Regions from separate parts of the Homo sapiens genome. Here region 1 is linked to region 2. The links come from fine-mapping of genetic effects on gene expression. A gene starts in region 2. The other region holds a variant in brackets. All regions are shown on one strand. Distances are between the middles of the regions. Region 1 overlaps LOC105375566 (a long non-coding RNA gene). Region 2 holds the start of AOC1 (amine oxidase copper containing 1).

The links.
Region 1: its variant is fine-mapped to the expression of AOC1 in whole blood (TOPMed, PIP above 0.99).

Annotation. Positions count from the first base shown.
Region 1 is chr7:150,752,874-150,768,626 of GRCh38, reverse strand. LOC105375566 (a long non-coding RNA gene) reads left to right here. Exons shown (of 4, transcript XR_928163.2): 3 at 2,651-3,775; 4 at 7,000-7,040. Among named protein-coding and RNA genes, the nearest start is that of GIMAP5, 23 kb to the right of the region's middle. RefSeq lists silencers at 12,884-12,943, 12,984-13,033. The variant C/G (reference allele first, on the strand shown) is at 9,609.
Region 2 is chr7:150,841,894-150,857,646 of GRCh38, reverse strand. It overlaps AOC1 (amine oxidase copper containing 1), which reads right to left and starts at 5,130. Exons shown (of 5, transcript NM_001091.4): 1 at 5,089-5,130; 2 at 1-1,192. The coding sequence starts at 1,176. All of the region lies in intron 1 of LOC105375567 (a long non-coding RNA gene), which reads left to right. RefSeq lists enhancers at 1-812, 4,977-5,548.

The sequences.
Region 1 (15,753 bases), 89 kb after region 2:
TTTTATTTTTTGAAATAGGGTCTCACTCTGTTACCCAGGTTACGATGCAGTGGCATGATCACAGCTCACTGCGGCCTTGACCCCCGGGCTCAATGGATCCTCCTACTTCAGCCTCCTGAGTAGCTGGGACTACTGGTGCATGCTACTATCTTCCGCTAATGTTTTAAAAAATATTTTGTAGAGATAGGTCTGTGTTGCCCAGGCTGGTATTAACTCCCAGGCTCAAGCCATCCTCCTGCCTTGGCCTCCCAAAATGTGGAGATTAAAGGTGTGAGCCACCATACTCGGCCCCTTTTGACGTTTCTGACAAACTTCCCAAGATTAATTTCTAAATTAAGCCTTTTTTATTGATCTTGAACTAACTTTGGGACTTTTGAGATGGGCTCCTGGAAAATGTGAAAGAATTTCTCTCTCACCTTGTAAAAGAGGGACATTAAACTAATTGGCTTATTTGATATGTTAAATTATGTGGGAAGCACTGTCAAGTAAAAGTGACGTTTAGCTTTCTTTATATTTATATGGGCACATGTTACTAATAAGAGTGTTTCAGAAATAAAATTCTTTAAAATTTGTCAATACCCTTAGCTATTCATCATATGTCTGATATAATGTTATCAATCAGAATTCTACATCTTATTTTACAATGTTGTATGTCACAGAAATAACCAAATTTCCTCATCAATTAGATTGTAAGAAACTCTCATTAGATATTTAAATGTGACTACTTAAAAATCTTTTATAATTTACATGTTATTTTACTGTGATATTTTCCTAAAAGCTTTTGCAAGCCACTATGGTCAAAATTTGTCTTCAAAGAGATCATGGAAAAGACTCCAACAAGTACAGGTTTTTGATAACTTTAAGATCCCACCATTGGCCTGGGTAAGAATTTCCAGAACTCTAATGAAGAAACTGACTGGTTTGTAAAACTGTTAACCCGATGTTGGGCAAAACAAAAATTAATTGGATGGGACTAAATGAACTGATGAAAAAAAATGATGCTTTAAAAAATTACCTTTTTTCAAAACATTGCTCGTTCTTTAATATTTTGTTTTCCAGATCTGAGGAAATGTTTTCTCTTTTATCCTACGCTATCTGTAGTTGACCACAATCTGGTAGATTATGCATTTGTAAACAGAAATAAAGCATTTGATTTTCTCCCTACCTAATCCCTCCAGAATTTGAAAATGATGAGTGAGTATTCTTACATTCATGACCATAGTTGTTTGTATAGGTCCAATAAGAATCTATCTGTTTGTAACAGGACACAATGGAAAACATTGGTTACATTACCAAAGCTTTGGAATGTAATTTTTAGAATGTCATAGAATCAGATATGACTACACAGTTTTAAGAAACTAAGGATGACTTTGTGGGGCGAATAAGGCCCCTTAAAAAACCCCCAGCCTGGTACCTTGCTCACAGAGTTCCTAGCCTTATAGTTGAGTAAAGAAGGTAACTTTCATGCAGGCCCAGGAGCCTTAAAAATATTTTGGAGACCTCGAGAACAGAGGAACTCACCCAAATCTAGAGGTGTTACAGGCAAAATCTAATGACAAGCTCTTGGCTTGGCTTCCTAGACTTGAGAGGCTTTTAGATTCCTTATTAGCAGTTCCAGCAAAGCAGACTTAAAAAGAGCCTATACGATCAATCACTATTCTTGCTGCATTATATAAATAATCAAGACAAGTTTAATGTGACTAGACTTATTTTGTAAAAAAATTAGTCTTACTGTGATTATGTTTGGTAAAAGTGGGAGTGACTGTGGAGAGAAAAATTATATTAACAAAAACTATAGTGTACCCGTTATTGGATTCTAGTACTGTTCATTGTCTTTGAAGTTTTGTTATCTATATGTAGAATGGATTAGATATTAAACTCTAATTTCCTCCCATATCCGGCAACAAATCTTCAGGCTAATGCTTCATGTTTTTCTCCTACTCTCTTGACTTGACATCACTGAAAACTGAAGCTGCCCTTTTCCTGAAATTTTGCAAGCTGAAACTGGATGACTTGATATAAACTTCAGAGAACTCACTACCACAACTAATATATAAGCAACCTTTGTGCCTGTTGCTGTGTAGGCCACTCAGAAAGTCCACTGGAACACCCAATGACCTCACCAGAGACATTCAAACTGCAAATCAGGAAATTGATCAGAATTACCACTGCTTATCTTCACTCTCTATCTAAAGATGCTTTGAGCCCAACCTATAGTACCCTTTACCAACTGATTGCCCTCTGGACTCAAAAGCTGGGCTTATAACTTGCCCTAAACATTAACCTTTATTTTTCTTTTGTTTCCATAGAAATGCCTCTTATTGGGCTGGGCGCGGTGGCTCACGCCTGTAATCCCAGCACTTTGGGAGGCCGAGGCGGGCGGATCACGAGGTCAGGAGATCGAGACCATCCTCGCTAACACAGTGAAACCCCGTCTCTACTAAAAAACACAAAAAAATTAGCCTGGCGTGGTGGCGGGCGCCTGTAGTCCCAGCTACGCGGGAGGCTGAGGCAGGAGAATGGCGTGAACCCGGGAGGCGGAGCTTGCAGTGAGCCGAGATCGCGCCACTGCACTCCAGCCTGGGCGACAGAGCGAGACTCCATCTCAAAAAAAAAAAAAAAAAAAAAAAAAAAAAAAAAAAAAAAAAAGAAATGCCTCTTATTGTTTACATTATGAAGTCTCAACTTGGATGGAAGCCCAACTGCAACACGGCCTCCTAAAATGAGACGCAACTGTTCAACTGAACTGTTCTCAGGACTAAAAGGCTGTGTCAATAAGATACGGGGAATATTTGTTCTTCTGTGTGTTCCGATCCTTGTTTTTCTTTCCCTTCGTTGATCTCTTGTTTCACAACTTCCAACCCAAATCTGCTCACAGCTACTAACTTGGCTTTTAACATATGAAACTTTCTAAAAGTAAAGTTTCAAATGGGGAATGAAGAGGCTCAGAATACACTACCCCAAAACATGTCACTCAGAACACATCATCCCCAAATATGCCACTTTGGCATCAGAATTATTTTAAACTAAAGGCACATAAAAACAGGAGATGCAAGAAGATCACTCTGACCTTCACTGTTCTTTAAAAGCCAGAGATGAAATTCCCATGTGAAAGGTGTTCTCCCTAAACCAAGAAGAAAGTAACATTCTCATCACAAAGGATAGGAAGTTGAGGCTGATAGGAATCTATACAAGCATCCCTTATGTTCCTAATTACTTATTTACCCAGTTATTTACCCTAGCATAAGCCCCTTTGCCTTGTTACATTTTCACAATTCAGGGCATAAATGTTTGACTCTAGCTGCTGCTTTGTGTCTTCATTTCCTTATGAATGCTCTCCTGCCATTAAAAAACTTGCATTAAATAATTTATATACTTTTCTCCTGTTGATTTGTCTTATGTCTATTTAATTCTCCAGGCCCAGGCAACAAACAAACAAACAAGAAAACAAAACAAAAACAAAAAACCCCCAACAACAACAACAACAAAACCATAAAAGAGGAGGGGCAAATTTTTGCCTCCTCTTCTGCATTTTTCACATGCTTTATCCTGTTTTCACTTCTTTACTTTCTGGCACTATAAGGTGTTCCAGGCTCATCTTATATTTATTTTCCCTATCCTAGCCCTGGAATCAGCCACTTCTACACTTCTTGAAGGAGTCCTGGTTCCTTTCATCAGGGAACGGCATTTCGAAATCAAGATCTGAGTGCTGGCTGTGCTCATTGCTACTGGTGTCACTGCTCATAGTCTCCTCTCTCTCAGTGGGCAGAGCTAGGTAATTCATGTATGTATAACTGACCCATATATGCACACATATTATATTTTTGTATCTACTAAAAATAAATCAACCATGAGTTCATACTGATATTTCTAACTCCAGTCCAGCACCAGGATTTATTCTAGCATTATCTCTGCTTATTTGTAACTTCTTTCTGACAATGAGAAAAGTGGATCCCATAGCTTACACTATATTTAATTATTTTTGAGCCCAAGTATACCATAGGTTTAGGGTTGTTTGTGAAAAACGAATTTACCAATGAGAGTTTGTTGCTTCTGTACTGTTCTTCTTGTCTTTGGCCTGACACTCTCCAGTCAAAACATTGCTTTACAAAGGCACTTAGGTCAGCTCGTTTCTTCCCTCCTAACTTCCGTATGGTTATGTTTTTTTATTTGTAATACGGTTAGATTCATTTTAGCAGTCCGCTTTTCATCTTGGATTTCCCCAAGATCTCAGTTGATTTTTTAAAAATTTGTATACAGCAAAGTTTACCCTTTGTGGTGTATAGGTTTATGGGATTGAGAAAGGCATAGAGTCACGTGTACAACAAGACAGTTTAACTCAGAACAATTGGACTGCCCAAAAGTTTCCTAATGAGGCCCTTTAGTGGGGCATCATTTCATAGGACTCCCCCAACTCCAGGCAACCACGGATTTGTTTTCTATTTTTATAATTTTGCTTTTTCCAGAATGCCATATAAATAGAATCATTCAGTATGTAACATTTTGGATTTTCTCTCATTTAGCAAAAAGAATTTCAGATTCATTCATGTGTTGTGGGTTGATACTTTTTATTGCTGAATGGTATCCCATTGTCTGGATATACACAGACTTACTTACCCTTTCATCTGTGAAAGACAGCTGAACTATTTCTAGCTTTGGTAATGAATAAAGCTGCTATAAACATTCAGGGCCAGGCACAGTGGCTCACGCTTATAATCCCAGTACTTTGGGAGGCTGAGGCAAGAGGATCAACTGATGTCAGGGGTTCAAGACCAGCCTGGCAAACATGGCAAAATCCTTTCTCCACTAAACATACAAAAATTCACCTGGCGTGGTGGTGCATGCCTGTAATCCCAGCTACTCGGGAGGCTGAGGCAGGAGAATCACTTGAACCCAGGAGGCGGAGGTTGCAGTGAGCTGAAATAGCATCACTGCACTCCAGCCTGTGAGACTCCATCTCAAAAAAAAAAAAAAAAATCAGGTACAGGTTTTTCTGTCAGCATAAGGTTTCAGTTAACTTAGGTCAATACCTTGGAGTGGGATTGTTGGGTCACATGGTAAGTGCATGTTTAACTTTATAAGAAATTGCAAAACTATTTTCCATTTATAAGAAACTGCTATACTGCCATTCCCCAATGAAAGGAACCAGGACTCCTTAAAGAAGTGTACTTTTGGTGCAAAAGTAATCAGAGTTTTTGCCATTGAAGGTGATGGCATGAGTCAGGATTTCCTTATTTTAAAAGGCTGAATAATATTCCATTGTATGAATATATCATGTTTGTTTATTCATTCATGTGTCAATGGACACTTGGGTTGCTCCCACCTTTTGGCTATTGTGAATAACGCAGCTATGGACACAGTGTACAAATATGTGTTCAAGTCTCTGCTTTCACTTCTTTTGGGTGTATACCCAGAAGTGGAATTGCTGGATCACAGGTAATTATGTTTAATTTTTTTGAGGAATCATCATATCGTTTCCACAGCAGCTGCACCATTTTACACTCCCACCAGCAATGCACAAGAGCTCCAATTTCTCTCACATCCTTGCTGACACTTGCTATTTTTTTTTATTTTTTTGTGTGTGCATGTGTGTTGATAATACCAACCTAATGGGTGTGAAGTGATATTTCATTGTGGTTTTGATTTGCATTTTGTTAATAGCTAGTGATATTGAATATCTTTCATGTGCTTATTGGTCATTTGAATATCTTCTTTGGAGAGAAGTTTATCTTGATAAACCATTTTTTGAGGTTTATTAATTTTTTTAACTTTTATTTTAGATACAGGAGGTACATGTGCAGGTTCGTTACATGGGTATATTGCATGATGCTGAGATTTAGGGTATGGATCCCATCACCTTGGTAGTGAGGATAGTACCCATTAATTTTGTTAACCTTTTCAAGGATCCAGTTTTGAGATTCTATTATTTTTCTCTACTATTTTTTTCTGTTTTTAATTTCATAACTTTGTTCTTATCTTTTCTCCCCTTTCTGCTTGCTTTGGGTTTACGTTACTCTTCTTTCTCTAGTTTATTAAGGTGAATGCAGCAATTAATTTTTTGAGGTTTTTCTTCTTTTCTGGTATAAGCATTTAATGTTATAATTTTTCCTTTAAGCTCTCCTTTAGCTTTCTTCCATAAATTTTGATTTGCTGGCATTTTATATCAACTTATTTAAACATATTTTTAAAATTTGCCTTGAAGTTCTCCTTGAAGAGGTCCTTCACATCCCTTGTAAGTTGGATTCCTAGGTATTTTATTCTCTTTGAAGCAATTGTGAATGGAAGTTCACTCATGATTTGGCTCACTGTTTGTCTGTTATTGGTGTATAAGAATGCTTGTGATTTTTGCACATTGATTTTGTATCCTGAGACTTTGCTGAAGTTGCTTATCAGCTTAAAGAGATTTTGGGCTGAGACGATGGGGTTTTCTAAATGTACAATCATGTCATCTGCAAACAGGGACAATTTGACTTCCTCTTTTCCTAATTGAATACCCTTTATTTCTTTCTCCTGCCTGATTGCCCTGGCCAGAACTTCCAACACTATGTTGAATAAGAGTGGTGAGAGAGGGAGAGAGGGCATCCCTATCTTGTGCCAGTTTTCAAAGGGAATGCTTCCAGTTTTTGCCCATTCAGTATGATATTGGCTGTGGGTTTGTCATAAATAGCTCTTATTATTTTGAGATACATCTCATCAATACCAAATTTATTGAGAGTTTTTAGCATGAAGGTGTTGAATTTTGTCAAAGGCCTTTTCTGCATCTATTGAGACAATCATGTGGTTTTTGTCTTTGGTTCTGTTTATATGGTGGATTATGTTTATTGATTTGAGTATGTTGAACCAGCCTTGCATTCCAGGGATGAAGCCCACTGGATCATGGTGGATAAGCTCTTTGATGTGCTGCTGGATTCAGTTTGCCAGTTTTACTGAGGATTTTTGCATCGATGTTCATCAGGGATATTGGTCTAAAATTCTCTTTTTTTGTTGTGTCTCTGCCAGGCTTTGGTACTCAATGAAATAAAAGAGGGCACAAACAAATGCTCATGGATAGGAAGAATCAGTATCATGAAAGTGGCCATACTGCCCAAGGTAATTTATAGATTCAATGCCATCTCCATCAAGCTACCAATGACTTTCTTCACAGAATTGGAAAAAACTACTTTAAAGTTCATATGGAACCGAAAAAGAGGCCGCATTGCCAAGTCAATCCTAAGCCAAAAGAACAAAGCTGGAGGCACCACGCTACCTGACTTCAAACTATACTACAAGGCTACAGTAACCAAAACAGCATGGTACTTGTACAAAGCAGAGATATAGACCAATGGAACAGAACAGAGTCCTCACAAATAATATCACATCTACAACCATCTGATCTTTGACAAACCTGACAAAAACAAGCAATGGGGAAAGGATTCCCTATTTAATAAATGGTGCTGGGAAAACTGGCTAGCCATATGTAGAAAGCTGAAACTGGATCCCTTCCTTACACCTTATACAAAAATTAATTCAAGATGGATTAAAGACTTACATGTTAGACCTAAAACCATAAAAACCCTAGAAGAAAACCTAGGCAATACCATTCAGTACATAGGCATGGGCAAGGATTTCATGTCTAAAACACCAAAAGCAATGGCAACAGAAGCCAAAATTGACAAATGGGGTCTAATTAAACTAAAGAGCTTCTGCACAGCAAAAGAAACTACCATCAGAGTGAACAGGCAACCTATAGAATGGGAGAAAATTTTTGCAATCTACTCATCTGACAAAGGGCTAATATCCAGAATCTACAAAGAACTCAAACAAATTTACAAGAAAAAAACAAACAACCCCATCAAAAAGTGGGTGAAGGATATGAACAGACACTTCTCAAAAGAAGACATTTATGCAGCTGACAGACACATAAAAAAATGCTCATCATCACTGGTCATCAGAGAAATGCATATCAAAACCACAATGAGATACCATCTCACACCAGTTAGAAAGGCGATCATTAAAAAGTCAGGAAACAACAGGTGCTGGAGAGGATGTGGAGAAATAGGAACACTTTTACACTGTTGGTGGGACTGTAAACTAGTTCAACCATTGTGGAAGACAGTGTGGTGATTCCTCAGGGATCTAGAACTAGAAATACCATTTGACCCAGTCATCCCATTACTGGTTATATACCCAAAGGATTATAAAGCATGCTACTATAAAGACACATGCACACGTATGTTTATCGCGGCACTATTCACAACAGCAAACACTTGGAACCAACCGGAATGTTCATCTATGATAGACTGGATTAAGAAAATGTGGCACATATACACCATGGAATACTATGCAGCCATAAAAAAGGATGCGTTCATGTCCTTTGCAGGGACATGGATGATGCTGGAAACCATCATTCTCAGCAAACTATCGCAAAGACAAAAAACCAAACACTGCATGTTCTCACTCATAGGTGGGAATTGAACAATGAGAACAGTTGGACACAGGAAGGGGAACATCACACACCAGGGCCTGTTGTGGGGTGGGAGGAGGGGAGAGGGATAGCATTAGGAGATATACCTAATGTAAATGACGAGTTAATGGGTGTAGCACACCAACATGGCACATGTATACATATATAACAAACCTGCACGTTGTGCACACGTACCCTAGAACTTAAAGTATAATAAAATGAAATTTGCCTTGAGGTTTCTTGTACCCAAGGGTTATTTTCAAGTATGTGTTTAATTTTCAAATCTTTGGACAATTTCTAGATTCTTTCTGTTATTTATTTTGAATTTAATTCCATTTTGGTGTAAAAATATACTTTATGTAATTTCTATTGTTTTAGATTTGTTAAGGTTTGTTTCATGGCTCAGAATATGGTCTATTTTGGTGAATGCTCCATGTGCATTTGAGAAGAATGTGTGTTCTGTTGTTGATCGAAGTATGCTATAGGTCAAGTGTCAATAGGTCAATAGTGTCATTAGGTCAATAGTGTCAATAGGTCAAATTGGTTGATAGTGGTCAAGTCATCTACATACTTAATGATCTTCTAGCTACTTGTTCTATCCATTACTGAGAGAGATGTGTTAAAATCTCCAACTGTAATGTAGATATTCATCTATATCAGCTTTTGGTTCTTTCAATTTTTCTTTAAGAGTTTTGAAGCTCTTTTGTTAAGTTCATATACATTTAGGATTGTTATGTTACTTTGGTAAATTGGCATTTTTATCATTATGTAGTATTTCTTTTTACCTTTGATAATACTCTTTGTTCTGAAGTTTTAAAAAATTTTTATTTATTTTTATTTTTTATTTTTTTAAAATTTCACCTTTTTCTTCATCATTCAACTTGATAAAGCTTCTTTTTTTTTTAACATGAATATAGCTATTCCAGCTTTCTTTTGGATATTGTTTGATGGTATACATTTTTAATATTCTTTTATTTGTAACATATTTATGTCTTTGTTTTTAAAGTGACTTTTTCTTAAGGCAGCATATACATAGGTCTTGTTTTTAAATCATATCTGGAAATTTCTGTCTTTTAATTGGTATATTTTGATCATTCACATTTCGTGTTATTATATAACTGAATTAAAATCTACCATTTTCTTAGCTATTTTTTATTTAATCCAT[C/G]TGTCCTTTATTTTTTCCTGCCTTCTCTTGAGGTAATTGAGCATTTACTGGAATTATGATTCTATTTCATCTCCTCTATTGACTTATTATTTGTTCACCCTTTAAAAAAAGTTTAGTCCTTGGTACAGGAGTTATATGTTTTTAATTAATTAGAGTGTATCATTAAATAACATTGTATATATTCACAGATAGTTTAAGGCCTCAAATTATCATAGTCCCACTTCTCTGCTATTACATATATTATACATATTATATACAATTATTAGCCTATAGATCTCTATATTATTAGATATTAATATCTGTATTCTATCATCTATCTATCTATCTATGAATCTATCTATCTATCTATCTATCTATCTATCTATCTATCTATCTATCTATCTATCCATCCATCCTGGGAATTAACTGAGAGATACAGATAAGCCAAAGCAGGCTTAAAACAAAACAAGGGCCGGGTGCGGTGGATCATGTCTGTAATCCCAGCACTTTGGGAGGCCAAGGCGGGCAGATCACGAGGTCAGGAGATCAAGATCATCCTGGCCAACATGGTGAAACCCCGTCTCCACTAAAAATACAAAAATTAGCTGGGTGTGGTGGCGCCTACCTACTCGGGAGGCTGAGGCAGGAGAATTGCTTGAACCTGGGAGGCAGAGGTTGCAGTGAGCCAAGATAGTGCCACTGCACTCCAGCCTGGTGACAGAGCGAGACTCCGTCTCAAAAACAAAACAACAAACAAACAAACAAAAAACAAAAAGTAGCTAGATAAAGAAAATATTGTTAGGTGAATCATGAAAAATAAAAGCATTTATTACGAACCATAAAAGTCGTACAGAGTAGCAGTATAAAAGATGATCTACATCTTGGGTTAATATAAGGCTTTTGTTATATAAGACTCACTTCACACCTTCATATTATTCATATAATTTTAATCTAATGACAACTTAGTTATCTTGGCTGTCTCTCCAATGTGTTGTATAATAAGTTCTTATAGGGTAAGGAGTTTACCGTGTGCAAGTGACCCTTGTTCTTCCCTCCTACCCCTCTCCTCCCTGTTTTCCTCTTCCCCTCTTTCCCACTCTCTCCTCTTCTCATCCCTTCTCAACTCCTCTCTCCCTATCCCACCTTCTTTTACTCACTCTTTCCTCATCTTATCTTCTTTAATCTCCCCCTTTTTAAAATTAATAGGTTTTGTTTTAAAAAGCAGTTTGAGGTTTACAGAAAAATGGGAATGATAAATACTGAGAGTTCCCCTATACTCCTCACCGTCTGCCCTAGCAATTCCCCCTATTAGTAACATCTTGCATTAGTGTGATACATTTGTTGTAATTGATGGGCCAATATTGATAAATTATTATTAATTAAAGTTCATAGTTTACATTAAGATTCAGCCTTGGTGTTGTATATTCTATGGACTTTGATGAATGTGTAGTGACATGTATCTACCATTATAGTATCACACAGAATAGTTTCACTACCCTAACAATTCCCTATATTCCACCTATCCATCTCTCCCTCCATCACCTGGAACCGCCAGCAACCACTGATTGGTTTACTGTCTCCATCATTTTGCCTTTTACAGAATACCATTTAGTTGGAATCATACAGTATATAGCCTTTTCAGATTGGCTTAGTTCACTTAGCAATATGCATGTAAGTTTTCTTTATGCTTTCTCATGACTTGTTAGCCCAGTTACTTTTTGAATGAATAAGATTCCATGGTCTAGATGTGCTACACTTTATTTATCCATCCACCTATTGAAAGATATCTTGGTTGTTTCTAAGTTTTGACAATTATGAATAAAGCTGCTATAAACCTTTGTGTGCAGATTTTTGTGTGGACATAAGTAATATATTTTTAAATAATGGGACAAAAAAGGAGAGCTTTCTAAGAATGACAGCGCCATAAAGAAAACATTTGTTCAAATTTCCAGACAGCAAAAAACTCACCATAGCAAACTTAAGAGACAAACAGCAGGGGGTGGTATTTGCAAGATATGTGACCACAGTTGACAGTTCTATTTTACTTAGCACACTGTGAACTTAAAGGAGATAAGATTCTCAAACTCTTTGACTATTTTATTTTATTACCTGCATGTCTGTGGTAGGAGAGAGACATATCAGTGATTCCCTTTAGATTTGTCCAAAAAATCTTATAAGAATTTAGTCCTGTTAGGAATTACCAGATTTCTATTTACATCTCACTGTTAGGAAAACACATTTTGAAATGAAACCACCATAATTCTACAGACTTTTAGAGAGGGAAAGTTATAACTGTTATTATATGAAAAGTGAACATTACAATATTAATATGAGAGAATATTTTGGAAGTCAAATCTGGCTTTCATTGCAAAGTGCGAACTGTATATGTTATCTGCGTTAGAACCGCCCTCCTCTCCAAACTAAATCAAAGAATCAGGAGTCACCTGTATCTCACTCTCTGGCTTATAATTTCTTTAAAAACTGAATCCATCTAAATGCAAATGTGCAAGTAACTGATCAAGCTCTGCCTCATTCACCTGAGAAAGTCCCCAGAGAGGAGCTCTGCCCACTCCCCCTGCACCCACCACCACAACACAGAGGCTCCCAGCATGACCGGGGCCACCCTCTTCCCTTCTCCCGAGCCCCTTGTTAACTTGTCAAGGGCTTGTCACTTTGGCTAAATCACATCATGAATGGGGTCAGATGTCTTCCTGGTCCCTGCGGAAATGAAATCCTCCTGGGTGGGGAAATCTCCTAAGCCTTGCCTCCCCCTCAGGTCAGAGCACAGGTAACCTGAGGGCAGGGCATTTGGCAGAAGTAAGAGGGAGCCATAAAATGTTTCAAGAAAGATGCCTGCTCCTTGTGCAGTGGAACCTGGAGAGTGCCCTTGGGTTCAGTCCTCACTGCCATCTAGAATTCAATATAGGAAACTCTCTTGGCCAGGCTCATGCCTATAATCCCAGCACTTTGGGAGGCTGAAGCAGGTGTATCACTTGAGCTCAGGAGTTCAAGACTAGCCTGGGCAACATAGGGAGACCCCATTTCTCAAAAAAAAAAACAACAAAAATAAGAAACTCTCTTTATGGCGCACTGCAGATGGTGGCTGGGAGATGTGTATATGTCCAGCCTGGGCCAGTAACAGGCAGCTGTTGGCCTTCCCTGGGATGCAGCCATATTCAGATGTTTAGTGGCTTTTCCGGGTCTCAGTGCTCCTGCTAATTCTGGTAAAAAGTTTGTTTTGCACAAAAGCATCACAGAGGTGTGGTGGGAAAAAGGAAGCAGAGCTGTTTTACAAACAGCTTCTTACCCTGGCTGTCTCTCAGGGCCTTGAGTCACCCTCTGAGGGCGGCTTTGTACGGAAACCCACACACATTGTTATTTTCCTGTCCCCAGGGATATGGTCCCTCTCTCTCTCTCTCTCTCTCTCTCTAGCAGACCAAATTTGTGGCCAGGTTCATCATGTCTCATTGCTCTTGTGTTTTTATAAAGAGCCTATAAGACAGTGAGAGAGACTGCCTAGGAGAGGGAGGGTTGCTCCTAGGCCATCTGTAGACCTTGCAAGAAATTCCAGGACCTGGCAGATAACAAGGCTTGTTTTGTTTTCTTTCATTTTCTCTTCTCTCCCCCACCCCGACCCCCCAGTTCTACCAGTAACAGTCTGTGCCAGCGTGGACAAGACACTTGATCTTTCTAAACCTCAGTTTCTTTATTCCTGAATTAGGAGAAAAAATCATATACCCTAAAGTCCCAGATATGTGCTAACTGAAAATATGACTGATATTATATTTTTAAGAACCTAAAGTCTGGAATAGAATGAGCTCAGATGGTACCCCTATGGTGATACTGATGAGCTCATTTCTTGTGTTTGTGCAAGAGCATTTTCATATATGCACATAGTGGCTGCTGCACCCTCTATGTGGGTACACATATGGCTTCCCCACAAATTGCAGGGCAAGGAAAGATCACCTGAACATCCTTCCCCCACCCTGGTCTTCCACAGAAGGTAGGGGATAGTCTTTGAAGGACAGGCTGAAAATTCATCTTTTGATTTCAATCTCATTTTATTCCCATTGCCTTTTGTTGTTGACTATACCACTCCACTTGATGGAAGTAGTTTCCATCTTAAAGAGGGGAGAAAGATTTCAGGAATAGGACTCAAGATGATCTGCAGTTATATATATATATATATATATATATATATTATATATATATGTATATATAATATATATAAATATATAATATATAAATATATATATAACTGTATGTATATATATACAGTTACGTTTATGTATATATTTTTCAAAGCAGTTTTAGAGTTACAGAAAAATGGGAATGAAAAATACTGAGAGTTCCCCTATACTCCTCACCTTTTGCCCCAATAATTTTCCCTGTTAGTAAATTCTTGGCTTAGTGTGGTTTATATATATATATAGAAGTAGTTAAAACTCCACTGTCCACAAGAATGAAGTCATAGATGGCAAGGGCTTTATTACTAGGCAGTTACCCTGACTCATAACCCTCTAACTGGCAGATCCTCACAACTGCACGTTATGTTTTTCTAATCAGCATGCCATTTATCTTTTGGAAACTCCAGTGAGGGAAGTAGAGAGAATATTATTGCTACTTTTGGCAAATGAGAGTAAGATAATCTGTCCAAGGTCAACCACTAGTTTCAGAGCATTTCACAGTTTTTCCAGTGGGGGTCTCCACCTTCCCCTTCTCCACCATGTCCCTCATAGTGGAGGGAACCATTCTTTACTCTCATTAGCTTAGAGATGATGCTCTCCCAGTTTGAGGCATGAGCTGCTCCCCTTCCTTCCTTCCTTCCTTCCTTCCTTCCTTCCTTCCTTCCTTCCTTCCTTCCTTCCTTCCTTTCCTTCCCTCCTTCCTTCCTTCCTTCCTTTCTTTTTCTTTCTTTCTTTTTGAGACAGGGTCTCACTCTGTCACCCAGGCTGGAGTGCAGTGACACAATCATGACTCACTGCAACTTTGGCCTCCTGGGTTCAAGTGATCCTCCTACATCAGCCTCCTTAGTCGCTGAGACTATAGGCATGAACCACTGTGCCAGGCTAATTTTTTTTTTTTTTTTTGGTAGAGATGGGGTTTTACCATGTGGCCAGGGCTGGTCTTGAACTCCTGGGCTCAGGTGATCCTCCAGTCTCGGCCTCCCTCCTAAAGTGCTGGGATTACAGGCATTAGCCACTGTGCCTGGACAGGTTAAACTGGTCCAACCATATTCCATGTGTGAGACATTTAATACCATTTTAAAATGAATTAATGGAAGGATTGATGGATATAAGATGAGTGAGGTGAGTTGATGGCCAGCCCAGAATAGGCTTTTTTTTTTTTTTTTTGGAGGGGAGCGATGATAGTGCTGTCCAGAGGGCTGGTGTGGCACTTGGGTGGGGTTCTCTGTAGTGGTGGTTTGGGCTAGAGGGATAGCACTGTGACTGGAGAGGAAAAACTCCTCAATAAAATAATTGAGGCAAATGAGAACAATCCTGATGTTTCTGAGAAGCACCCTTTTCACTTCTCTTTCTGTTCAGGCTGGATTCCGAGACAGTAGCAATTTCAGGTTCTCCTTCTCGGAGGAAATGGCCCGCCACCAATCTCTTGGCCAAACACAGCACGTGAATAGCTTTGCTGCATGTTTTCCCGGAGGGCTGATCCCTCTCAGCACACAGGGGCAGCCACAGATTCAGGCCCTACAGGCACTCAGTTTGCCCTGAAACACCTGAAAAAGCTGCCTTCTCCCTTTAATATCCTTTCACCCCCTCAATCTCGGGTGCAGACTTGGCCTCATGTCACTGCTGCTTTAGGAAACCCTGGAAATCTTAGTTCCCTGGTAGTTAAAAGGGGTAGATGGTATTACAAGACCGCCAAGTTTGCCAGGTCCCTGGCCTCCCCCAGTGTAGGAATATCCGCTTCCAAGTCCACCTACCCCTCTGCAGCTCTTTCAGCATCGCCTTATCTTCTCCTCACACACCTTTCCAGGCACCTACCAGTGCCACCTGTTTTCCTCTGATGCTCAGGAGCCCCTCCTTACCGGCTCCTGTGGAGACCACCGTTCAAGACAATCCAGGGGCAGCACATGAGAAAACAGAGAGTCTTGAGTTCTAAACCATCAGCATTGCAGCAAGATGGAGTGAAAAAATGGTTGGTTTTC
Region 2 (15,753 bases):
CGGGCAGTCGATGCCGGGGGCTAACTCATGAGTGACGCTGCCCAGGCCCCAGCCGACATCGAGGTACTTGGTCTGCATGCCTGCAGGTGTGTGTCCTCCATACAGCGCCACTGCCTCTTGCACGCTGACCTCATAGGCAATGCGCTCTCCGCCGAAGTGCACGTTCAGGACCTGCAGCCCGGAGGAGGAGCGCAGCCGGAAGGCAAAGCTCCAGCCGCCGTAGAGCACAGCGTTGCCCTCCAGCCTGAAGCGAGGGCCGTGGGGCTGGACCAAGCGGGGGCCGCTCACATGGATGGGGCTGGGGAAGTCCCCGCGGGGCTTGTGGGAGGAGAAGAGGGGCGGCTCCTCTGTGCTGTCATGCCCCTTGCCCCCAGGCAGCGGGTCCTCCAGGACCACCACGTCCACCTCTCCATCTGCATACTTCCGAGCCAGTTCCTCTGGGCTCCCATAGAACTTCCCGTTGTACCACACCTGCTCCACGGCCCAGTGCCCAGCATCTGTGCTCCCATGATCCACGAGGAGCTCCAGCCCAGTGGGGTGCAGAAAGTAGCCTTCTACATAGCGCTGTATGATAAGCCAACTGCGGCGCTGGCCAGAAGCCACACCCCGGGGGGCCACATCGGTGAAGGCCAGGCATCTGTCATGGCAGTCTTGGAATGAGAAGCCTGTGGTATTGAGGAAGAACTGATGCAGGGGCTTGGTGGCTTCCTGCAGGGTGTGGTAGAGGAGGGCATACTCTGCTGTGGAGATGGGCCTCGATGCCCAGGAGGACTGGTACCCAGGCCTGGGGGACAGTGCTCGCATGTAGCAGGGCCCTGGCAGGGGCCCCACAGCAAACTCGGTGACATTGGGATGCTCCTGGTCACCAAAGAAGATGACGGCACGGGCTTCCCGCACAGGATGCCTTTCACCTTTATCCAGAAACCTCAGCACATGGTACTTCTTGGGCAGCAGCATCTCGATGAGAAACACGGTGTTCTTGGCCATGGTGGTGGTACTGGAGGGCTGCAGCCTCAGCTCCTTCTTGGACCAGAGGAAGCTGTGCACTGCCTTCAGCTCTTGGTTGCTTAGGTCTGAAAACACCCCTGCCTTCCTGGGCAGAGTCCCCGGGGAGGGCTCCGCCATGGCCGTCTGCAGCATCAGGATGGCAGCCACGGCCCAGCCCAGGGCCGGCATCTCTCGCTCCACGGCTCTGGAATGCAATAGAGGAGATGAACTTAGTTGTCTTATGGGCAGAGATGGGCTTCCCTCAGGTTAGGGCCATGGAATTTTCCCATGGACTGAGCTTCCTCCCCTTGCCCTGCCCCAAGCTGGAGGCTGTCCTGGGGCAGCTGGGGCCCCATGCATAGTCCCCAGCGCCGTCGGGCCGCTGCCTGTGCATCCATCCATTTATTTCTGCCCTCTCCTCACTCCTCTGTAAATGTCCTTCAGTCCTGCAGCCTTCCTTACTCAGGGGAACACCCTTGTTTTTGTGTATTATCTCAGCCAGGGGTGCCGTGAGTCACAGAGGCCAGGCTGGGCCCCTGCACATGCCCCCAGGTGCTTCTTGTGTCCTGGAGAAGAAGACACCTGTATTAACAGCAAAACTACATTTCTGACACAACGAAATACCTTTTAGGTAGACAGATTTTGAAATTTAGTGTAGAAATTCAAAGGTAGGCTCTAGAGTCAGGCTGTCTGAGTCAAGTCCCAGTGACTCATGCCACTAGGACTTGCTGTGTGGCCTTGGGCACGCTGCTTAAACTCTCTGGGCCTTCATGTTCTTAGTTTTAAAATGAAAATAATGACAACAGTGCTTAGCTCCTAGGGTTGTGGAGAGAAATCAATTAAACAGTAAATATAAAGTGTTTGTAACAATGTCTGCCATATGGGAAATACATGAGAAATGTTAGCTGCTCTTCTTGTTAAATACAGGCTATCGACACCAGCCCATTTAAAGTTTTACGCAATGTAGAGTGATTCAGGTGTGACTAGGCTGCAGACTGATGGCTTTGGGGGTGAGGTAGAGGTGCCCAGTCCTGCCTAGCCTTCTTTGTGCCCCATTCACCTCTCTTGTCCACCCAAGGCTACTAGGAGGGGACCTCAGGGAGGGTTTCATCTTAGGAAGATGCCTTTTCCTTTCTCAGGGAGGGTGGGTCAGGGTCTTCACCTCATAACCCCATTCCCCAAGCAGCTGTAAAATCCTGTGCTTGTAGCTGTGAGCCTCCTGCAGGGCTGGGAGACGTGGTGGCCACAGCTCTGTCTTCCCATGTGCTGTGTGCGGAGTCTCTGGGAGACTGTTACTCTTGCCTGTTGCGCTGTTGCTACAGATGCTGGCTGGAGCTGTCTCCCAGCCTTAGTTTCTCCAGACCCTAACTTGTCCTCCTAGGTGATGTGGGCCTCCCTGGAAGGCTGCCGTCACCGTGAAATTTCCCTACAGAAGCACTGCCTTTGCCACCTTGCACCCCCTTCCTCAAGGCTCTGGGTTGAGCTGGGAGCCCCGCTTCAGGATTCCTCCCTGTCTCAGCTGTGCTTTTCACTTCCTGCAAGCAGTGCCTGAGGCACAGACACTTGATTTATAAGGTGGATGCATGAGTGGGTTGGACTCTGAGAGATCCTTGTTTTCATATTTTCATAGGTAGTTGCCTTTTGCTCCCTAAATCAGAAGCCCTGGGGGTAAACCTGGAGAAAACTCGTTCTCCTGTGCAGACAGACAGGTAGCAGAGAGGGTTAATCCACTCCTGTCTCAGACCTCTGCCTGGCCCAGCCTCTTCCCAGGGGGCCCAGGCTGCCTGCAAGGGAGGCCCCGAGGATTTCACCTGGAAAGTCGGCGGCACAGGGTGTGAGGTGTAACTGAGGTGCAGCAGCTCCACTTTGGGTGTATCGTGGAGTGACCCACTGAGGAAACCTGACCATCATGAGCGCTTTTCATTTCTTGCTTTTGTTTTTGGAAAATGCATTTACACATCACATTTCCGAAGCACAAGCGTTGGGAACACAACCCATGTGTTAACTAGAGGCCCTGTTTTCCCGTGGCTTTTTTCCTCCAGAGAAGCTCAGCTGCACATTGTCCCTTCCCACCCGACTCTGGGCCAGTGTCACATCCTTTGCCACCTTTTGAGGTCAGCTGAAACCCCGCACTGCCGAGGAATGCTGTTTTTGGCCCCAACTAACATACTTCTCCACTAGTCCCCTTAGCACTTTGTATTTAATTTGTACACGATGGGCAGTTCTTGATTCATAGACAAATGAAAGGTGTTGGCTGGGCCTGTTCCATCACCCGAGGGCTCTCTAGCCCTGGAGGCCACGGTAAAGGCTGATCTGAGATGTCCTTCTCTCCCTTTCCCATGCCCCTCTCCCCGAGGGCTCTCCCCTTGCCCTCGTTTTGCTCCATGGTCATGGCCTCTCATGGGGATGTCCCTCTAGTTGCCTTGTCTTGCCCTCTGGTGCTGGCAGAAGACCCTGGAACCCACATGATCTTGGGCTCTCGGAGGCCCTGCTTACCTGGAGGGAGCAGGTGAGGCAGGGGCTGCAGGCGGAACCCAGAGCCAGCAGGAAGGATATGAGGTGAGTTCTTGTGTTCTCCTATTAAATATTGGCCAGGCCTCTTTTTTTTCTTCTTTAAATAGACTATTTTTTCTTTTTCCTGAGACAGTCTTGCTCTGTAGCCCAGGCTGGAGTGCAGTGATGCGATCTTGGCTCACTGCTACCTCTGCCTCCCAGGTTCAAGCAATTCTCCTGCCTCAGCCTCTGGAATAGTTGGGATTACAGGTGTGCACCACCATGCCCGGCTAATTTTTTGTTTTTAGTAGAGATGGTGTTTCACCGTGTTGGTCAGGCTGGTCTTGAATTCCTGACCTCAAGTGGTCCACCTGCCTCAGCCTCCCAAAGTGCTGGGATTACAGGCATGAGCCACCAGGCCTGGCCCCAAATAGACTTCTTATTAGACTTAAATAAATAAATAAATAAATATATATATATATATATATATATATATATATATATAGTCAGGATCTCACTATGTTGCCCAGGCTGGTCTTGAACTCCTGGGCTCAAGTGATCCTCCTGCGTTGGCCTCCCAAAGTGCTGGGATTATAGTAGACTTTTTTTTTAATAGACTTTTAAAAATAGACTTTAATAGATTTCTTAATAGACTTTATAAAGTCTGTTAAAAGTCTTTAAAAAGTCTATTAAAAGTCTTTTAACAAACTTTATAAAGTCTATTAAAGTCTTTTAAATAGGAGTCTTTTAAAGAGGAATTTTAGGTTCATAGCAAAATTGAGCGAAAGGTACTGAGAGTTTCTGTATACTCACAGCCCCTACACACGCAGCCTCCCCACTATCAATATCCACACCAGAGCCATACATTTGTGGCTGATGAACCTGCACATCACTCTCACCCAGAGCCCACAGTTTACATCAGGACTCACTCTTGCTGCTGCATATTCTATGGGTTGGACAAACGGACAATGACATGGATCCACCATTAGAATATCACACAGAATAGTTCCACCTCCCCCAAAATCTTCTGTGCTCCACCTCTTCCTCCGAAACCCTAGCAATCACTGCTCTTTTTATTGTCTCCATAGTTTTGCCTTTTCCAGAACGTCCTGTATTTGGAATCTTACAGTCTGCAGCCTTTTCAGATTGGCTTCTTTTGCTTGGCAGTGTGCATTTAGGGTACCTCCATGTCCTTTCACGGCTGGGTCTCCTTTTTTACAACCTCTTATACCCACGTTTCTTTTTGCTTTTCCAGGAAGGAGAAAGATGTGGAAGAGACCTTTGCTTTCCCCAGGACAAACCTCTGTCCCCATGTGCAGTGGCAGTGGGGGTGGTGGCTGGTGAGACCTCCAGGCAGGAACAGGAAGCAAGCCCTCTCCCTGCTCACCCTCCTCTCTGAGCTTTCCCCACTCCACCCTGGCCGGCTGTTGCCTGCCACCAAGCACCCGGGCACCTTCTGTGATGTGCTGGGCTCCCGCCCTCACTTCCTGGCCCTCCTCCCTCTGTGTCCTGTTTCTTCTGCCCCTCACTCTGTGCCCTCCTTCCACTGCTTTTCTGTCCTCCAGGTCAGCCCCTTCTTGACTCTCCCGAATACCCATCAGAACGCACCTGTGTGCTCTGCTCCCAGTTCGCTCTGCTTCCAGCCTTTGCCCTTAAGCTGATCTCTGACTCCTTCTTGAAGTCAATCAGACCCCGCCCTGCAGGGAGGGACAAGGTGAGGCCTGAGCTGGCCTAGGAGGGGCCTATGGCTTGGGAGGTGCCTCTGTGGGCAGCTACAGTGGCGAGAGTGGGTTTGAGGAAGCTGGCTGTGCAGCACACTTGTCCTGAGTCTGTTTCCAGACAAGTGCCGCCTTCCACAAGAATTTGCCTTGGCTTCTCTGTGACGAGCCATGCAATGCCACGATCTGTTAATTTAGGTGGCATATTTTAGAGGCAGAGATAAGGACAAGGGGCCATTTCCTAGCCGGTAGTCTTACCTGAAGCTGACAGATGGACCAGGGCAGGGGCTGATAGAGGCTGGCACCCACAGCAAAACAGAGAATTCAACCGCTCCTAGAACAAGACACCAGAGGCAGAACCGTTTGGGAGGAGCAGCCACTCAAGACGAGTTGCAAACTTTGGCGGCTTTTTAACGATCTTTGAGACCCTGACCAGATTCAGAAAGGAGGAAGGACTTGGCTGGGAGAAAGCTGGCCAGGGTAGCTAAGGCTATGGCACAGAGCGGAGAGGGGAGAGGACACTGGGGCAGGTAGTGCCCATGCAGTGGGCGGACAGTGCTAACGCCCACTTAGTCAGGTTGAGAAGGGCGAACGTGGTGACCGGGGTAACTCCTAGTTGGAAAGGAAAGAATAGAGTCAGGAAAAGTTCGTGGCTCAGGAGTGCCAAGGGGTCATCATCCCCCATTACCAAGGTTTGGTTGCTCAGGGATTGCACACCGCTTTGTGGTTATAGGGGTTTTGTATTTCTCATCATCATCCTTCCTGCTGCCCGCAATGCAAGCCATTTCAGTGTGCACTGGCAGCTAGATGAAGGAAGGTGAACACACTTAGTCAACTTGAAGCTTGCTTGCAATTCCAGAAGGTCTTTGGTGTTTCTGAGGAAGGGGATTTGCCTTCCATGTTAAAATGATGATTGATACAAAGACAATGAATGCTAACGTCTTTCACCCTCAGTGTTCAAGAGGACTGTGAGTTATGTATTCTCAGTTATGGGCTCACCAACTCCGCAGAGAATTGGGGGGATTTGGATTAGAAGAGAGTTTCAGGAACAACCTGATTTTGAGGACTACAATCTGTTTCCATTCCACAAAGGAAACTGCGACAAAGTTAATGGAGTGAGGATGGATCGAGAAAAGAGACTTGCAAAGATTTAAAGGGAAAGGGGCCACATGCACATGATGGAGTTAGACCCTTTCACACACGGAAACGGACTCGAAAGGGACCAAAGACATACATGTAAGAGCTAAAACTGTAAAACTCTTAAAAAGAAAACATAGGAGTAAATCTGCTTGACTTTACATCTAATTCTTGGATGTGACCTCAAAGCACAAATAACCAAAGAAAAAAAAATAGATAAATTGACATCATCAGTATTAAAAGACTTTTATGCTTCAAAGGACACCCACAGGAAAATGAAAAGACAAAGCATAGAATGGGAGAAAATATTCACAGATTATATATCTGATAAGAAAATTATATCTAGAATGTAAGAAGAACTCTTCCAATTCCATAATAAGAGGCAAATAATCCAATTAAAAATGAGCCAAAGATCTGAATAGATATTCCCCTCACGAAGATACACAAATGGCCAATATGCACATGGAAAGCTGTTCAATGTCATTAGTCATCAGGGGATGCAAATCAAAACCACCAGGAGATACCACTTTATATCCACTAGGATGGCTAGAATTCAAAAGCAAGGTAATAACAGGTGGGGCCAGGAGGCAGAGAAACTGGAAGCCTCACAGGCAGTTCATGGTGAGATGACGCAGCCACTTCGGAAAACTGTCTGGCTGTTCCTCAAATGACTTAACGTTGTTATCATATAACCCAGCAATCCCACTCCTGGGTATATGCTCAAGAGAAAGGAAAGCCTATGTCCATGGGGAAACCTGTACCAGAGTGTTTACTGCAGTGTTATTCACAATAGCCAAACAGTGGAGACGACTCATATGTCTCTGCATTGATAAATGAGTCAACAAAATGTGGTCTATCCACTCAATGGAACATCATTCAGTCATAAAAAGGAAGGAATCACTGTTACATGACACAATGTGGATGAACCTTAAAACCACTACGGCAAATGAAAGAAGCCAGTCACAAAAGACCACATTATTCCATTTATATGAAACGTGTGGGGTAGGTAAATCTCTCAAGCAGATGAGAAGCACATTAGTGGTTGCTTAGGGCTGGGGTGCGATGGAGGGATGGGGTGAGAGCTAATGCTTATGGGGTTTCTTTTTGAGGTGATTAAAAAGTTCTAAAATTGAAGGTGATGGCTGCATGTACCTGTGAATGTACTAAAATGCATTGAATTATACACTTTAAATGGGTGAATTGTAAGGTGTGTCTCAATAAAGCTGTTTTCAAAAAGTGACAGGACTAATATCTAGAATACACAAGGAGCTCTTGCAAATCGGTCAGAAAGAGGCAGCAGTCCCCATGGAAACCTGGTAAAGAATCCCAAGGGTAACTTGCAGAAGAGGCACCCCAAAGGGCTAAAGAGCACATGGAAAGATGCTCAAATGTAGTGGTTACTAGAAAAATGCAAAGCATTCAACAACGAGATATAATTTTTCATGGGAAAGCTGGATGATGCCAAGTGTTGACAGAGATGTGGGGAAACGGGGACCTTATGTGTGGTTGTGGGAAGGGGTTATTGATGGCACAGCCATTCTGGAGGGCACTTTGCAGGGTGTGGGCAAATGAGAGAATTGCATGCTCTCCAGACTCAGGAACTCTGTCTCTTGGAATATATGTCAAAGAGGTTCTCACCCAGGCCTAGAGGTGGGATGCAGACACAAGTGGCTGTGAGGCTGGGGAGCTGGAGGCCATCGGGGTGCCACCCCCAGGAGAGTGGTCACTGCACACCATGGGGTGTTGTGCAGTTGGCGGGTGCAAAGGCATGGATGTCCACACAGCCACTCCTGAGAAGGGATCTCAGGATCATGGAAGACGCAGGATGAGTGATAGCACGATGCCATTACACAACAGGAAACACGTACACACCAAGCCACCCGCTTTCAAGAGTGGATACACATTAGAATGGATGTGAGGGCGGGGGTGGGAGTGGGAATACATACATACACACGTGAGAAAGACAAGAGAGAGGACTTGTATGGGCCAGTGATGACGACATCCATGCACTGAGGTAGAATTAATTCAGTTCTGCAATGGACGTCCATAAATAAATAAAAGAAAGGCCTGGGAGACAGACTGAGTGACTACAGGTCCTCACACCAGGGTAGATGTGGCTGAGGACAGGAACCACCACAGGTCCCGCACCTGGAGGATGCAGTGAGGGCAGGGAGGAACACTGCGTGTAGGCAGGGAGCTGAAGCACACCAGAAAGAATTGCATTTTTTATGTAACGGGGCCCATAACATGTACATAGAAGGATTAATATTACAAGGTGGCACAGAGTAAGTGCAACACATTGATGCCCAAGGGCCTGTCCTGCAAGGGCTTGGAAGGAGATTCCCCTCAAGACTGCAAGCCCCCAAGTCCTGGGACTCTATCCCCTCTGCAGTAGCCTCCATGGCTGCTGTCACAGAGGACCACACACAGGGGCTTAAAGTAACAGAAATGGGTTGTCTCACAGTTCTGGAGGCCTAAAGTGTGAAATCAAGGTGTAGGCAGGGCCATGCTCCCTTTGGAGGCTCAAGAAGAGGGTCCTTCCTCTCCTCTTCCAGCTTCTGTGTTGCCAGCAATCCTTGGTGTCCCTCAGTGCCTTGGCTTGTGGCCATGTCACTCCAATCTCTGTCCTCACATGGCGTCCTCCTTGTCTCAGTACCTCTATTTTCAAGAACACCAGTGATTGTATTGAGGGCCTACCCTACTCCAGTATGACATCATCCTAACTAATTCATCTGCAACGACCCTATTTCCAAATAAGACCATATTCTGAGGTTCCAGGGAGGACATGAATTTTTAGGGGGATGCTATGCAACCCAGCACACCTTCTTTACCTGCCTCATTGCAGAGAGCATGGTCCTTGGCCAGTGAGTGAATTCCAAGCCCTGTGCCCTGGGGGGCTGCTGCCCCGAGGATCCACAAGGTAGAGCCTGTGTGGGGTTTTGCGATACACGAGGGACTTAGGAGGAAGAGGACACACTGGGCAGGGGCGGGGGTGGGAGTGGGAGTGTGAGTGGGGGTAGGAGCAGAGTCCTGAACTGAGATGTGGTGTGTTTCCCAACATGGGAAAAGGTCAGGGCTGATGCGGGGAGTGGGGTGCGGTTTGTGTCGCTGTGCTGAGGAAGGGCAGGTGGTGTGTCTGGAAGGAGGAGGTAGAGTGAGGAACCTCCCTATGCGCTTCTAGAGAAGTGTGGGGGTGAAGAGGGGCTTGTGGGAATCCTATAGAGACAGAGGAGATAGAGAAGCCCTCTAGAGAGGCACTGGGAAAGCTGAGGCGAACAGAATCCTTGTGCAGAAAAGCTGGTAAGTCTGTTGTTATATACATATATATATTTGTAGAGACGGGGTCATGCTGTGTTGCCCACGCTGGTCTTGAACTCCTGGCCTCAAGTGATCCTCCTGCCTTGGCCTCCCAGAGTGCCGGGATTACAGGCATGAGTGACCATGTCTGGCCAAGGCCATTGTTTCTGCTCATGTTTGTGTGCACTGTGGCTGGGGAACTTGAGATGTCACACTTGAAATTTGGGGTCTGTTGCCTTGCCACCTCTCTTCCTGCTCCCTGGCTGGGGCTGGCCCCTCCATACTGAAGGTGACCTTGGTTTCTGAGGTGTGGTTCCTCGCTTGTGGAATTAATGATTGCTGACAGTTAGAGATAGCACTTGGGCAAAGACCGTATCCTGTCAGTTGTTCGCTGCTTGCCTTTCTTAAGGAGGTCCAGGCCTAAGGAGGGGCAGCGCTATATACAAAGGTGGAGCTAGGAAGCCAGAGGTCACAGCTCACCATGTCCTGTGGCTAAATCTTGATATTTTGCTTTCAGAAAGTCACAACCTGTCAGAGCTAATTTGAGAGGATCTAGAGAGTGGGATTGTTTCCACGAAACCACAGAGAAGAAACAGAGCAACCCGCGCCTGCACCAGGACCTACTGGGGGTACACCAGGGAAGCTCATTCGATTAGATCTTTATGTGAATGAAGCCAACATCATAGCTTTTGTCCCTGATTAGGGAAGGTGGGTTTGTAAAAAAGAAAATTCCACCATTTTCTGAGGCAGGGCCATTGGTCATAAGGGGCCCTGGTGAGGTCCTGATGGCTTGGGCAGCCCCACCCAGAGAGGGGAGAACGTTCATCTCCAGGTGCTAGCCCTGCTTCTGCCACTGGCTGGTGGGCTTATACTTGACAGTCCTTAATTCATTCAACAAATGTTTATGGAGCACTCATTCTGCACCAGGGAGACACAGCAACGAACAAACAAAACCAAAGCCTCTATGGGGCTCATATTTTAGTGAAGACTATCCAACAGCGAAGCTTGTGAGCCTTCACAGCAGACCTCCTCACTGGGACAGCTGATGACAGGGGCTGGCCCTGGGCTGGCATCTGGGAACTTAACTTTCAGGATCCTGCCCCGCTGTGCCGGCCTGCTGACTGTTTTTACAGACAATGTGATTAGTGAACACCTGCTTTCCTATTGGGAATCTGGAATCTTGTTAGTTGTGGTGGGCAGAGAGTGTGCCTACGTGACCAGCCCCAACCTCTGCCCCAGCTCTGAGCTTCTACTTCCCTGGGGAGATGCAGGGCGCAGGGTATGCTCTGTGCAGCCTTCATGGGAGGGAGAGCTCAGCGAGTCTGTGCCCTGACCCCTCCAGACCCCGCTGTGTCCTTGCTGTGTGTTGGCCGTGGGTATAACTGTCTGCTTAGTCTGGTGAGTCCTAGTGAAGCTCTGACAGCAGAGGTGCCATGAGGTGTCACGGGTGTTCAGAGAGGTGTCCTGCAGGCGTTGGCGGCAAGTGGTGACCCAGTGTGTTCCAGTGGGGCACATGCTCAGGGGAAAACAGAGCAGGGGCATGTGGTGGGGGCAGGGCCTGACCTTTCAGAAAGGGGACTCCTCTTCTCCTCAATGTGGTGAAGGAGTGGGCCACAAGGATGCCTGGTGGCGGGGGCATTTCAGGCTGAAGGAGCAAGGAATGCAAAGTCCCTGATGCAGAGTGAGGGGACTGCTGTCGCCAGGGGCAAGTGGTGGCAGGTGGATTCAGAGAGTGACCAAACGCCCTCGCCTCCAAGGCTGTCACTGGGATTTTACTCTGAGCCACTTGGGAAGCCTCTGTCAGGTTCGTGCAGAGGCCAAAACTGACCTGCCTCTAGCAAGTGCTATCTGGAGGTGCTGGGGGAGACAGAATGCAAAAGAGTGAAGGCTGCAATGATGGCAGGAGCAGAGAGCAGGCCGGGGGGTGGTTGCAATAGTCTTGGGGGGCAAGGCTGGTTGCCAGGTCAGGGTTGCAGGGGTGGAAGTGATGAGAAGTGGCCACATTCTGGATGTAGCTGGAAGGGAGGCTGGGGGAGATTTGCTGAGGGCTGGGATATGAGACTCCAGAGAGAAGAGCCAGGTGACCCCAAGTTCGGGCAGAGGTTCTGCTCTGCTGGGGCAGCCAGGAGCTGAGTCAGGATGCTTCAGTGTGTGAGCATGGCTGGCTGCTGGCTGAGCCCACTTCTGGACTTTGATGCTGGATCCCAAGGCACATGAGGGGCAAGGGTGGAGGGAGCCCCAAGGAGACCTTTGTGAGGAGTCAGAGACCAGGGCTGGGTCCTCCAGGCGCTCTTTGTATCTTCACTGACCATGCCTGGCAGTGCTGGCCAGCTGACAGCTTCCCCGTCAAATCCCACATTCCTCCCTCCAGCTGCAGCTGTGTCTGGCAGCCGGGGCTGGGCAGTAGACACAGCAGAATTCTTCCTTCCTCCTGGCTCTCTTTAGTAGCTACCTCACGAAATGTGCATTGGATTCTTAAAGAAGAAAAAAATCAAGAGGCCAGAAAATCAGGAAGCAGAAGTTAAAATATGTTGCTGATCTTTGAAATAAAGAATTTGTGTTGGTAGACATGTGACCTTGTGTGGTGCAGGGATGTATTTGTGTTAAACCATTTTGGTGACTATGACATTCCAGGTGCATATTGGAGGTAGCATGTAGGACTTCAGAAATCACCAGAACAGTCACTGCCTCTGTGCAGCCCTTTGCTGAGCACAATTTTGGAAGGAAATATAGCAGCATGGTTACTGGTACAGGATATAGAGCCAGAAGGCCTGAGTTTGAATCCAGGTTCTACTTCTTTTAGTTGGATGTTATGTGGGAAAAGCGGTTAACTTTTCCTTTTAGAGACGGTGATTTTCTCTGGTGGTATGATTTGATTTCTTGCTTTTTAATTTTTGTGCATCTGTTGTATGTTTTTTGATTTGAGATTACCACAGGGCTTGCAAATACTCTTACAATCTATTAAGTTGATAACAACTTAACACTACTTGCATAAACAAGCAAACTAAAAAGCAAAAAGAACACTAATAAAGACTTTCTCTTTATCTTTGTTCCCCTACTTTTTGTTCTTTTTTTTTTTTGTTTGAGACAGCATCTCACTCTGTATCTAGGCTGAAGTGAGGTGCATGGCGTGATCTCAGCTCACTGCCACCTCCGCCTCTGGGGCTCAAGCGATCCTCCCACTTCAGCCCCCAAAGTAGCCGGGACCACAGATGTGAGCCACCATGCCAGTTAATTTTTGTATATTTTGTAGAGATGGGGTTTCGCCATGTCATCCAGGCTGGTCTTGAATTCCTGAGCTCAAGCAATCTGCCTACCTCTGGCCTCCCAAAGTGCTTGGATTACAGGGGTGCCCTGTGGGATTATAGGCAGAAGCCACCATGTGAGGCCTTCCCCCACTTTTTAACTCTTGATGTTTCCATTTATATCTTACCGTACTGTCTATGTTTTGAAAAGTTGTTATGATTTTTGATTGGTTCATATTTTGGTCTTTCTACTTAAAAGTAGTTTACACACCACAGTTACAGTGTTGTATTCTGTGTTTTTCTGTGTACTTACTAATACCCGTGAGTTTTGTATCTTTAGATAATTTCTTATTGCTCATTAACATCCTTTTCTTTCTGATTGAAGTACTCCCTTTAGCATTTTTTTGTAGGACAGGTCTGGTGTTGATGAAATTCCTCAGCTTTTGTTTGTCTGGGAAAGTATTTCTCCTTCATGTTTGAAGGATATTTTCACCAGATATATAATTCTAGAGTAAAAGTTTTTTCCTTCAGCACCTTAAATATGTCATGCCACTATCTCCTGGCTTGTAAGATTTCCACTAAAAAGTCTGCTGCCAAATGTATTGGACCTCCATTGTATGTTACTTGTTTTTTTTTTTTTTTTCTCTTGCTGCTTTTAGGATCATTTTTAAAAAAAATCCTTGCCCTTTGGGAGTGTGATTATTAAGTGCCTTGAAGTGGTCTTCTTTGGGTTCAATCTGCTTGGTGTTCTATAACCTTCTTGTACTCAGATCTTGATACTTTTCTCTAGTTTTGGGAAGTTCTCTGTTACTATCCCTTTGAATAAACTGTCTACCCCATCTCTTTCTCAACCTCCTCTTTAAGGCCAACAACTCTTAGATCTGCCCTTTTGAGGCTATTTTCTAGATCCTGTAGGTGTGCTTCATTAAAAAAAAATTTTTTTTGTCTCTTCTGGCGATATAATTTCAAATAGCCTGTCTATTCTCACTAATTCTTTCTTCTGCTTGAGCAGTTCTGCTATTAAGAGACTCTGACGCATTCTTCAGTATGTCAATTGAAATTTTCAACTCCAGAATTTCTGTTTGATTCTTTTCAATTATTTCAATCTCTGTTAAATTTTCTGACAGGATTCTGAATTCCTTCTCTGTGTTATCTTGAATTTCTTTGAGTATCTTCAAAACAGCTATTTTGAATTCTCTGTCTGAAAGGTCAGATATCTCTGTTTCTCCAGGTTGGTCCCTGGTGCCTTATTTAGTTCATTTGATGAGGTCTTGTTTTCCTGGATGGCTTTGATGCTTGTGGATGTTCGTCAGTGTTCGAGCATTAAAAAGTTAGGTATTTATTGCCATGTTTGCAGTCTGAGTTTGTTTGAGCCTGTCCTCCTTGGGAACAGTTTCCAGGTATTCAAAAGGACTTGGGTGCTATGATCTAAGCTGTATCTGCTTTAGTGGGCACCCCTAGCCCAGTAGCACCGTGGTTCTTGCACACTTGTAGAGGTATCACGTTGGTGGTCTTTGATAAGGTCCAGAAGAATTCTCCGGATTACCAAGCAGAGACTCTTTTTTCTTCCCTTACTTTCTCCCAAACAAATGGAGTCTCTCTCTCTGTGTTGAGCTGTCTGGAGCCAGGGGTAGAGTAACACAAGCACCCCTGTGGCCACCGCCACTGGGACTGTGCTGGGTCGGATATGGAGTATCAGCACAACACTGGGTCTTGCCCAAGGCCTGCTGTAACCACTACCTGGCTACTGCCTATTTGCTCAAGGCCCTAGGGCTCTACAATCAGCAAAGGTGGTGACGCCAGCCAGGCTTACATCCTTCCCTTCAGGTTGGTGAGGTCCCCTAGGTCCTGAGTGGGTCCAGGGATGCCATCTGGAGCCATGGATGGGAATCTAAAATCTTAGAAGTCTACCTGTTGTTCTATTCTACTGCAGCTGAGCTGGAACTCAAACCACAGGATGCAGTCCTTCTCATTCTTACATCCCATTCTCACAGGCAGAGGAGCCTCACCAGGCCCGTGGGGAGTACTGCCAGGCTACCACTGATGCTCAGTTAAGGACCAAAGGAACTTCAGTCAGCTTGTGGTGAATGTTGCCAGGCATAGGAACTCATCCTTCAAGACAATGGGCTCCCTTGGCCCATGGTGTGTCCAGAAATGTTGTCTGGGAGCTAGGGCCTGGAATGGGGGCCTCACAGCCTTTATCAGTGCCCTAACATACTGTGGCTGAGCTGGTATCCAAAATGCGAGACAAAATCCTCTTTACTCTTCCCTCTCCTCAAGCAGAAGGAAGGGGTCTCTTTTGGAGCTGTGTGCTGTGCTGCCTGGGGTTGGGGAAGGAGTGGTGCAAACACTTCCTTAGACACCACAGTTGGTGTCTCATGTGCCCCACCAGTTCACTAACTCCAAGCCCAGCTCAGCACTAGGTCTTGCCTAGGAATTGCAGTCCTTGTTGCGTAGACTGCTCCTCAAGTTCACTTAGGGTCCCAAAGCACTGCAGCCAATGGGGGTGAGGCTTGCTGGAACTCATGCTCTGACTGCTGGGCTGGGTGAGTACCCTCTGGCCAGGGCTGGTCCACATGTTCCCTCCGTGGTGTCAGCTGAGTATAGCTCAGTTTTGCTTTCCGCTGTGACATAGCAGCACTGAGTTCAATGCAAAGCCTCACAGTCATGGCATTCTCCCTCTCTCAAGTGTATATACAGATTCTCTGTGCCATGTAGCCACTGCCAGGGGATGGGGGAAGGGTGGCATCAGCAACTCAAGACTGTCCTTCTCACCCTCCTCAGTGCCTCTCTCAGGAATTTGAAGTCAAAACCAGGCACTGTGAGTGCTCACCTGATTTTTGGTTCCTATGAAAGTGCTCCTTTTGAGTAGATAG